Linked DNA regions of Homo sapiens: region 1 is linked to region 2. The links come from fine-mapping of genetic effects on gene expression. A gene starts in region 2. The other region holds a variant in brackets. All regions are shown on one strand. Distances are between the middles of the regions. Region 1 overlaps CCDC158 (coiled-coil domain containing 158). Region 2 holds the start of CCDC158 (coiled-coil domain containing 158).

What was found. PIP is the estimated chance that this variant, and not a neighbour inherited with it, causes the effect.
Region 1: its variant is fine-mapped to the expression of CCDC158 in atrial appendage (GTEx, PIP above 0.99). The same link has a PIP of 0.9 or more in prefrontal cortex.

What each region holds. Positions count from the first base shown.
Region 1 is chr4:76,378,342-76,383,720 of GRCh38, forward strand. CCDC158 (coiled-coil domain containing 158) reads right to left here. Exons shown (of 25, transcript NM_001394954.1): 7 at 5,321-5,379; 8 at 4,269-4,379; 9 at 949-1,063. Among named protein-coding and RNA genes, the nearest start is that of CCDC158, 40 kb to the right of the region's middle. RefSeq lists an enhancer at 2,233-2,737. The variant G/T (reference allele first, on the strand shown) is at 2,143.
Region 2 is chr4:76,418,829-76,424,207 of GRCh38, forward strand. It overlaps CCDC158 (coiled-coil domain containing 158), which reads right to left and starts at 2,313. Exons shown (of 25, transcript NM_001394954.1): 1 at 2,137-2,313.

The DNA of each region.
Region 1 (5,379 bases), 40 kb before region 2:
CTTCCTTATACTCTATTTCTTCTAACCTACTGCTCCAAATAGCTAAGGTGTGAGAAACTGACTACAAGTGACAGAACTGTATGTAAATTGTTTCTGCTTGGCTGTCTAAGGGTCTCTTATAGGTAGGATGACTAAATATAGACTTTATCTTCCAAATGGGGACACTATGGAGATGAGAGGTAGCATTCATAAAACAGGACACTGGGCTAGCGGGTGTAAACCGAGACTGTCCCAGGCAAGCCGCCTTGGGTGATCACCCTTCTCACAGGGAATGAAGACCACCACTCCTCTTAATGGCAGCTCCTTGTTTGTTTTTTAGGGTCTTACTGTTTTACAAATGGTTGAAATGAACAAAAGTCTAAACTCTGGATAAACAGATGACAATGATACTGAATAGCTTCTCTTTAGCTATGGAAAGTGAAAGAAAAAAACAGAATATCAAATATTAATGTGGTTTTAAAAGGAATTACATGATGATGAGAGATGACTTATCCTCCTAATTAATTTTTATGTAATTAATTCATTTAATTAATCTTAACATTAATTCAGTTTGGTAGCTTCACAATGATTAGGAGTTAGGAGTTGAAGTAAGAGAGGAGGTAGGCCCCAAAAATATTGAGTAGCAGGGGGATCTGGCTGGTATGGAAGTATTTGCTAAAGTTTAGCTAAGTAAAAATAATTAAGATGGTCTCATTTTTAATGCATTTTTTAGAAACTCACTTGAACTATGCAAAAAATTTTGCTAAGAATGAATCAGAGTACACAATTTAAATAAAAATAGTTTATAAATAGTTTAAAATATAATTTAGCATGCTCTTACTCCAGCTTATAAACTGCTTTTAATTTGAAATTACTTTGATTCCTTATTTTCAAATAAACTATTACTAATATAATATTGATTCTGGATATTAAAGTCTCTAGAAACAGACCAGCAAAACCTAAACTCACCTTGTCTTCATACATCCTTTTGGCTTCCCTTAATTCAGAACGTAGCTGAGAAACAGTAGATTCCAGATCGCTGAGCTGACGCATATACATAGAGTTTTGGTTTCTTGCTTGCTCTCTAAGAAGAGTTTAGAAGGGGAATAAGTGCAAATAGCAAACTAAGAATAAGAGTAACACCTGAGTATTCTAGCTTTTTGACACTACCACTAGTTATTTTATATGGCATTATTAAGCCAATAGTCTTTTATTTTCCAAAACTGACTCTCAAAAGTTTCACCTCAAATATATTGTAAACTGCTGAAGCTGGGTGACAGCTGTATGGGAGTGCATTACACTATTTTCTCTCTACTTTTGTATATGATAGAAAATGTCCATATAAAAAGTTTTAACATACAACTCAAATAAAATTATTTCTACACATATGCATACATTTTACTTATATATATTCATATATATTACACACACACACACACACACACACACACACACACACACGGTTTGGCTCTGTGTCCCCACCCAAATCTCATGTCAAATTGTAATCCCCACATGTCAGGGGAGGGACCTGGTGGGAGGTGATTGGACTGTGGGGGCAGATTTCCCCCATACTGTTCTCATGATAGTGAGTTCTCACAACATCTGATGGTTTAAAAGTATGGCACTTCCCCCCTTTCCTGCTCCGCCATGGTAAGATGTGTTTGCTTTCCCCATGATTGTAAGTTTCCTGAGGCCTCCTAGTCATGATTTGTTAAGCCTGTGGAACTGTGAGTCAACTAAACTTCTTTTCTTTATAAATTACCCAGTCTTGGATAGTTCTTTATAGTAGTGTAAGAATGGATTAATACAGAAAACTGGTACCAGGAGAGTGGGGCACTGCTATAAAGATATCTGAAAATGTGAAAGTGAATTTGGAACTAGGTAACAGGCAGAGGTTGGAACAGTTTGGAGGGATCAGAAGACAGAAAGACGAGGGAAAGTCTGGAACTTCCTAGAGACTTGTTGAATGGTTGTGACCAAAATGCTGATAGTGATATGGACAAAGAGTCCAGGCTGAGGTGGTCTCAGATGGAGATGAGGAACTTCTTGGGAACTGGAGTAAAGATCACTCTCACTATGCTTTAGCAAAGAGACTGGTAGCATTTTGCCCCTGCCCTAAAGATCTGTGGAACTTTGATCTAGACAGAGATGATTCAGGGTGTC[G/T]GGCAGAAGAAATTTCTAAGCAGCAAAGCATTCAAGATGTCACCTGACTGTTTCTGAAAGCATACAGTCATATATATTTACAAAGAGATGGTGTGAAATTGCAACTTCTATTTAAAAGGGAAGCACAGTGTAAAAGTTTGGAAAATTTGCAGCCTGACCATGTGGTAGAAAAGAAAAACCCATTTCCTGGGGAGAAATTCAAGCTGCCGGCTGCAGAAATTTGCATAAGAAGAGGTGCAAGACAATGGGGAAAATGTCTCCGGGGCATGTCAGAGATCTTTAGGCAGCCCCTTCCAACACAGGCCTTGTGACTTAGGAGGAAGAAATGGTTTTGTAAGCCAGGGCCCTCTCTATCGCTCTGTGCGTCCTCGGTACATGGCACCCTGTGTCCCAGCTGCTCCAGCTCCAGCCATGGCTAAAATGGGCCAAGGTACAGCTCGGGCTGTTGCTTCAAAGGGTGCAAGCCCCAAGACTAGGCAGCTTCCATGTGGTGTTGAGCCTGGAGGTGTACAGAAAGCAAGAGTTGAGGTTTGGAAACCTCTGCCTAGATTTCATAGCATGTATGGAAATGCCTGGATGTCCAGGCAGACATCTGCTGTAGGAGTAGAGCCCTCATGGGGAACCTCTACTAGGGTAATGTGGAGGGGAAATGTGGGGTTGGAACCCCCACACAGAGTCCCCACTGGGGCACTGCTTAGTGGAGCTGTGAGAAGAGGGCCACTACCCTCCAGACCCCAGAATGGTAGATCTACAGGCAGCTTGCACTGTGCACGTGGAAAAACTACAGGCACTCAGTGTAGCCTGTGAAAGCAGCTGCGGAGGCTGTACAATGCAGAGCAACAAGGGCAGAGCTGCCCAACGCCTTGGGAGCCCTGCCTTGCATCAGTGTGCCCTGGAAGTGAGACATGGAGTCAAAGGAGATTATTTCAGAGCTTTAAGATTTAATGACTGCACAGCTGGATTTTGGACTTGCATGGGGCCTGCAGCCCCTTTGTTTTGGCCTATTTTTCCCATTTGGAATAGGAGCATTTACCCAATGCCTGTAACCCAGTTGTATCTTGGAAATAACAAACTTGTTTTTTATTTTACAGGCTTATAGGTGGAACGGACTTATTTTGTCTCAGATGAGACTTTGGACTGAATTTCTGAGTTAATGCTTAAATGAGTTAAGACTAGGGGACTGTTGAGAAGGGATAATTATATTTTTTTTATTTTTGAGATGGAGTCTTGCTCTGTCGCCCAGGTTGGAGTGCAGTGGCGTGATCTTGGCTCACTGCAAGCTCTGCCTCCCGGGTTCATGCCATTCTCCTGCCTCAGCCTCCTGAGTAGCTGGGACTACAGGTGCCCACCACCATGCCCAGCTAATTTTTTGTATTTTTAGTGGAGACAGGGTTTCACCGTGTTAGCCAGGATGCTCTCGATCTCCTGACCTCGTGATCTGCCCGCCTCAGCCTCCCAAAGTGCTGGGAATATAGGCGTAAGCCACCATGCCCAGCCAATAATTGTATTTTAAAATGTGAGAAAGACATGATATTTGGGATATTACAAATCTGAATTGTAATCACCATGTGTCAGGGGAGGGGCCTTGTGGGAGGTAACTGGATCATGGGGACAGATTTCCCCCATGCTTTTCCCGTGATAGCGAGTGAGTTCTCATGAGATCTGATGATTTAAAAGTGTGGCACATCCCCATTCTCTCTCTCTCTTGCTTTGCCATGGTATGATGTGCTTGCTTCCCCTTTGTTTTCTGTCATAATTGTAAGTTTCCTGAGGCCTCCCACTCACGACTCCTGTTAAGCCTGTGGAACTAGGAGTCAATTAAATCTCTTTTCTTCATAAATTACCCAGTCTTGGTTAGTTCTTTATAGCAGTGTAAGAATGGACAAATATGAATACTTAAAACAGCCAATCCCAGGAGCCCCAAATACTTGCAAAAATACTTCTTATATGGTCAGATAACAGTACCTATGTTACATAATACTTCCTGTTCATTTAAATGTTAGAAAAATGTTTCACTTTCTTATGAAATCTTACTAAGCAAGTTCTAAAAGATTATAGAACAGAAAGTTAATGAGAATAATATCTTTAAAATGAAGATGAATGACTAACAGTTTCAAACCACATACTGAATGATTTCCATTTGACTCTGGATACTATTGGCTTGGCTTCGAGCACTGCTAGCTTTCTCAGTAAGTCCTGTTATTTCAACTTCATGTTCACTTATTAACTGCTCAATCCTATAAAAAGAATGTGGTGATTGTCATTTGATACAGAAGATTTTCCTGACTATGAATTATTTTAAAAATTAATGATTTTCAATACTCTCAAATTTAGTATTTTGCTTTGCTTTTGTATATGCTACTCTTTTAATAACAAGTGTCTACAACAAGTCCAAAACCCTTTATCCAAATCTTTTGGGAGTCAGATAGTTTTGGAATTCAGAATTTTTTTTTATTTTACAATGGTAATAAATTGCAAGTAGTAAATATTATATGACACCCCCAATGAGATCTAGGGAAGTGTCCCATTAACGAAACATATCATGAATGCAATAATTTATAAGTATTCACACTAAATTGTAGACTATGGAAAGGTTTACATTAGCTCTGGTCAGGTTTTTCCAACAAATGAGTGACAAAAACTCTCTCCTTCACCAAACTTTAGTCAGACTCTTCTGAGGCCTCTTTTCAACTATGCCTCAACCTTTGGCCTGCCTAGCCCAGACCTAGCAAGAATCTTGCCAAGTCAGTTTAGTCCTCCCACCCTCGATATCTGATCAAGTTCTTCATCCCCTGCCTTTGATATCTAAGCCCTTGGCCTGCATTTAGCAAGAATCCCCCTACTCTTGATGCCTTTTCTCAGTAATTTTCCATCCACAGACCCCCTCACCATGCCCCCTGGCTATAAATCCCCATTTGGCCTTGTATTGGGAGCTGAGCTTAATCTCTCTCTCTCTCTCTCCTACAGCAATACTCCTATTGTAATCATCTCAAATGACATCTTCCTTACGATTTTATAACCAGGGTCAGGAAAACAAAATGTTAACATGAGTTTCCTATAAACCTATAAAAAAACTTATGTGTTTCAGAGCTGTTTAGATTTTGGAATTGTGGCCGAAACACTGTAAAACTGTGGTTTAGTTTCGCTAGGCTTTTCCATACCTCAGTCAGAAACCTACCTATCTTGGTGTTGTTGCAGAAGTAGTTCTATTTTGTTCTGTGATTCAGATTTCAGTGC
Region 2 (5,379 bases):
AAAGTGGGAAGTGTAAATTAGCTGCCTGGGTCCCAGAAGTGAATCATTAAACTTGAACACTGAATTTTCCTGTATCCTGAAAACTCCAAAGTATCTTAATTCCAGATGACTAGCGGTTGCTTTTAGCCATATTTTAATACATGGAAGCACTTCTGCATTCCCTCTTTTCCCCAGGCCTGGACCTCAATCCCCAGGTGTCTGCAACTCTTACTTGATATACACACAATGGATAATCAATAATGATTCAGCTAAGGTAAGGACAAAGCCTTTGCCACTTTTTACCTTTATTCTTTTTAGCCAGAGCAAATAGTGATATATTAATAGGAATACTCTTAAAAAATTGCTTTAAATGCCAGACTACCTCCTTCATATGCACCACTTAAATTTCTTTTCTTACCAAATTCCCTATTCAAATCCTTTCTTTAGGATTTACAGGATTCAGATAAATATACAGTGATCTCCACTACTGTACCCCACTATTGCCCCAGCTGAAGACCTGTAAACTATTCATCAGTACAGCATGTATGTGATTTATGAGCACGCTCATATGTATTAGTTCCCTACAGTTTCCATAACAAATTATCAAAACTCGGTAGCTTAAAACAATAGCAACTTATTCTTTCATAATTCTGGAGGCCAGGAATCCAAAATCAGTCTCATGGGGAAGAAAGCATGGTGTTGGCAGGGCTCCCTCCCTCCCTCTGGAGGCTCTGCAAGAGAATCAGTTCCTTGCCTCTTCTAGCTCTGCTGGTTGCCAGGCATTTGGTGACTTGTGGCCACATCACTCCAATATCTGCCTCTGTGGTCACATTGCCTTCTCTTCGGCCTATATCAAATCTGCTTCTCTCTCTCTCTTAGGACCTTTGCGTTTGCATTTAGGACCCACCTAGATAATTCACGATAATCTCTCCATTTCAAGCTACTTAATCACGTATGCAAAGGCACTTTTCCCTTATAAGGTAACATTTACAGGTTTCAGGGATTAGGACCTGACATATTTGAGTGGCCACTGCTCAGCCTACCATATAATTTGGGGCCATCTAGCTGGGGGACGGGTGGATCACAAGAGGCCCTGTTTAATAAATGGTGGAGGTCTAAAGTGGCTCACTCATAACATACTAGATAAAACTAAGTCCTCATTGTAAATGCACAACAACAGTAAGGGCTTTGCATACATACAAATAAATTGCTGTCCTCAATTTGTTTTGGGAGTATAATATTAACTCTATGGCATGGAAACCATTTCACCCACAACACAAGTAAGATAACCGCACTAAGATTAAAAGCAATGAGCGCAGTACAGAGATAGGAGGACCACATCTCTCTCAGCACTCCTGCACCCTTACCTGATGAGCTTCCGCACAGAGAAACAGTCCTACCTAGCATGTCTCTGGGATATGTGGAAGCCCTGGTCCTTTCCCCACACGCCCCCGCCATACCCGGCCACAACGCCTTAATCTCCTGCTGAGAGAAGCAGCAAGAACTGGTTGCCAGTCAAAAAACCTGGGCAACAGCCGACCTCACTTCTACTTTCCCCTGACGTTGGAGTTCAGCATGAGGCACAAACAAAACCTGGAGCAGCCTGAGTGGGGCCTGGAGCAGAGTGCTGTGGAAAAGGATGGAGACTTTCCAGAACTCATTGTGTTGCTGATTGATGCTGATAATGAGGGAAAGCTCTGACCCCCACATGTGGTTTAAAGACAGGGCTCAAGCTGAAAGGGCCCTTGCGCCGGCATTTAACACCATTCCGTCTTGGATGCGAGGCTGTCCTCTCTACCACCAAGTCTTCCCCATCTCCTCCCCCTGTTCGCGGCAGCGCGGTAGACACAGAGTCAGCAGTCACGTTGGGGCAGGTTACTCGGTGATTCTCTTCCCCACAAATCAAATCAGTTTGCGCAGGCCCCTGTGTTCTTCAAGGTCCAGGTTTCAGCGCCACCGTCCCCAGGGGTCTTGCAATCCCCTAAAACAACAGCAGCTCATTCCAGTAAAGAAACAATTTATTGGGCATCTTCCATGTGCAGAACAAACACGAGGCACCGGAAGATTCCAGAAATGAACACGAGTCGCTCCGGGTCCTCAGAAGAACCCCACTCCCACCCCACCATCCTCGTCTCCCGGGCCGCGCCCCGCTTGTACCTGCAACCAACACCTAATCCTAAGACACCGGCCACATCTCCGCGGGGCGCCGGCGGGCGCAGCGGCCCCACCTACGTCGACCTGGCGGCTGGGACGGGGCGGCTCCCCACTCTTCGCCCCTAGGCCCCGCGGAGGCTGCGGGGCGGCTCCTCCTCCTCGGCTGCGGCGCCGGAAGCTGCCCGCGCCCGTCACTCCTCGCGGCTGTGGCGCTCGGGGCGCTGCCCAGTCCGCGCGAGCCGCGTGGGTGACGGTTAGGACGCTCTGCGAGGCTTCGTAGTTGGGGGAGGGGAGGAGGGGGGTGCTCGGCAGCTGCCCGGCGGGGACCCCTCCCGCGCCTGCGACTCCGCCCGCCGGACGCCGTCGCTGGGGCATCCGAGCGTCGAAGTCCCCACCACCGCCCGGGCGCCCTAAGGAGTGGGGGTGTACCCAGCCCGGAGTCAAATCCTGGAGCCCTGCCCCAGAAACTACCCTGGGTTCGGACCTGCACCCGGCGCCCTCTGCCGCTTCTCCCACAGCCTCCTAACTGGTCTCCGGCCCTACTCTTGCCCCCACCCGAGCGCCTCGGGCCACTCTCGTAGCTGTCCCCACCGTGGTCTTCCCAGATAACTCACTGACCCGCACCAGTCTGAGCTCTTACCTGCCAAAGAGTCAAGCCCAATCTGGAGTTGCCCGCCGGGCCTCCTACTCTGACACCCCCACCCGGCCCCACCTCACCCCCCCCTCCCATTCCCACTCCTGGCATTCCCATTTGACCATTTCAAGTTAACAGAATTCACATTTTGCAGCTCTGTTTTCTCTGTCCCCGAATGTTCAAGTTCAAACGTGTTCTCGGCATAGCTGACCCTTCTGCCTCTGGAGACTTGTTCCCTCCGCTGTGCTACAGTTACCCTCTGTCATTATCTCTAATATAGAATTTATCAGATTTTGCTGCCCAAATTATCGATCAAATGGAACGCATCCAGAAAGGCCAGTGTCTGATAGATGCAGCCTGAGGCATTTAATTCTGCTAGCAATCACATTGTGCAGACACCTACAGCAAATAACTTTTTATGTATAAGTTGATTAGAAATATTAGTAAGTCTTACATTAAATAATGTAGCTACAAATTTTAATAAAAATAGATTAAATGCCATTAAAGATTGTTTATCATATCTTTGTAGTTAATCCATTTATTGGCTTATAGAGATCTAGGATTAGCTATAGAATCGAGCATTTTTAACAGGAAGTGAAACCATAAGTATTACATAGAAAGGTAAATAATTTAGGTCTTGTGGTTGGACAAAAAGCAATTTCTAATTTTTTCTTTTTTCTATCAAAACATGAGTGTTCAATGACATAAAAATTTTCCATACCTAATACATGGTTTCCATTGGTGTCTCATTTTGTGCTTGTACCCTGGACACACACAAAAAGGTTTTTTTCTTTTCAACGTCTTTAATTAAAAGGTGTGTTAATTAGTGTAGCATGAAATTATCTACACCCACATATATGTACGAAAAGTTATGTGCCCCTGATTTTACTATAAAATTCATCACATTTTGAAGTGTCCTGCGGTTTTACAACATTTTTTAAATATTGTATTAAAAACAGCTTCTTAGCTTTTTAAATAAAGAATTAAAAGATCAAGAAAGGGATCCAAAGTCCTTTTCCATTCATTCATTCATTCCATCCATATTTATAGGGCACCTACAACATGCTATGTGTAGGTTGTGACAATAAAGCTGGGGCCCTCTCCCTCTCCCTCTCCCCCTCCCCCTCCCCCTCCTTTTCCCTCTCCAAGGTCTCCCTCTCCCTCTCTTTCCACGGTCTCCCTCTGATGCCCAGCCGAAGCTGGACTGTACTGCTGCCATGTCGGCTCTCTGCAACCTCCCTGCCTGATTCTCCTGCCTCAGCCTGCGGAGTGCCTGCCATTGCAGGCGCGCGCCGCCACGCCTGACTGGTTTTCGTATTTTTCTGGTGGAGACGGGGTTTCGCTGTGCTGGCCGGGCTGGTCTCCAGCTCCTAACCGCGAGTGATCCGCCAGCCTCGGCCTCCGGAGGTGCCGGGATTGCAGACGGTGTCTGGTTCACTCAGTGCTCAATGGTGCCCAGGCTGGAGTGCAGTGGCGTGATCTCGGCTCGCTACAACCTCCACCTCCCAGCCGCCTGCCTTGGCCTCCCAAAGTGCGGAGAGTGCTGCCTCTGCCCGGCCGCCACCCCGTCTGGGAAGTGAGGAGCGTCTCTGCCTGGCCGCCTATCTTCTGGGATGTGAGGAGCCCCTCTGCCTGGCTGCCCAGTCTGGAAAGTGAGGAGTGCCTCTTCCCGGCCGCCATCCCATCTAGGAAGCGAGGAGCGTCTCTGCCCGGCCGCTCATCGTCTGAGATGTGGGGAGCGCCTTTGCCCCGCCGCCCCGTCTGCGGTGTGAGGAGCGCCTCTGCCCGGCCGCGACCCCGTCTGGGAGGTGAGGAGCATCTCTGCCCAGCTGCCCCGTCTGAGAAGTGAGGAGACCCTCTGCCTGGCAACTGTCCCGTCTGAGAAGTGAGGAGCCCCTCCGCCTGGCAGCCGCCCCATCTGAGAAGTGAGGAGCCCCTCCGCCCGGCAGCCACCCCGTCTGGGAAGTGAGGAGCGTCTCCGCCCGGCAGCCACCCCGTCCGGGAGGGAGGTGGGGGTCAGCCCCTCTGCCCGGCCAGCCGCCCCATCCGGGAGGGAGGTGGGGGGGTCAGCCCCCCGCCCGGCCAGCCACCCCATCCGGGAGGTGAGGGGCGCCTCTGCCCGGCCGCCCCTACTGGGAAGTGAGGAGCCCCTCTGCCTGGCCACCACCCCGTCTGGGAGGTGTACCCAACAGCTCATTGAGAACGGGCCATGATGACAATGGTGGTTTTGTGGAATAGAAAGGGGGGAAAGGTGGGGAAAAGATTGAGAAATCGGATGGTTGCCGTGTCTGTGTGGAAAGAAGTAGACATGGGAGACTTTTCATTTTGTTCTGTACTAAGAAAAATTCTTCTGCCTTGGGATCCTGTTGAACTGTGACCTTACCCCCAAACCTGTGCTCTCTGAAACATGTGCTGTGTCCACTCAGGGTTAAATGGATTAAGGGCGGTGCAAGATGTGCTTTGTTAAACAGATGCTTGAAGGCAGCATGCTCGTTAAGAGTCACCACCACTCCCTAATCTCAAGTACCCAGGGACACAAACACTGCGGAAGGCCGCAGGGTCCTCTGCCTAGGAAAGCCAGAGACCTTTGTTCACTTGTTTCTTTGTTCACT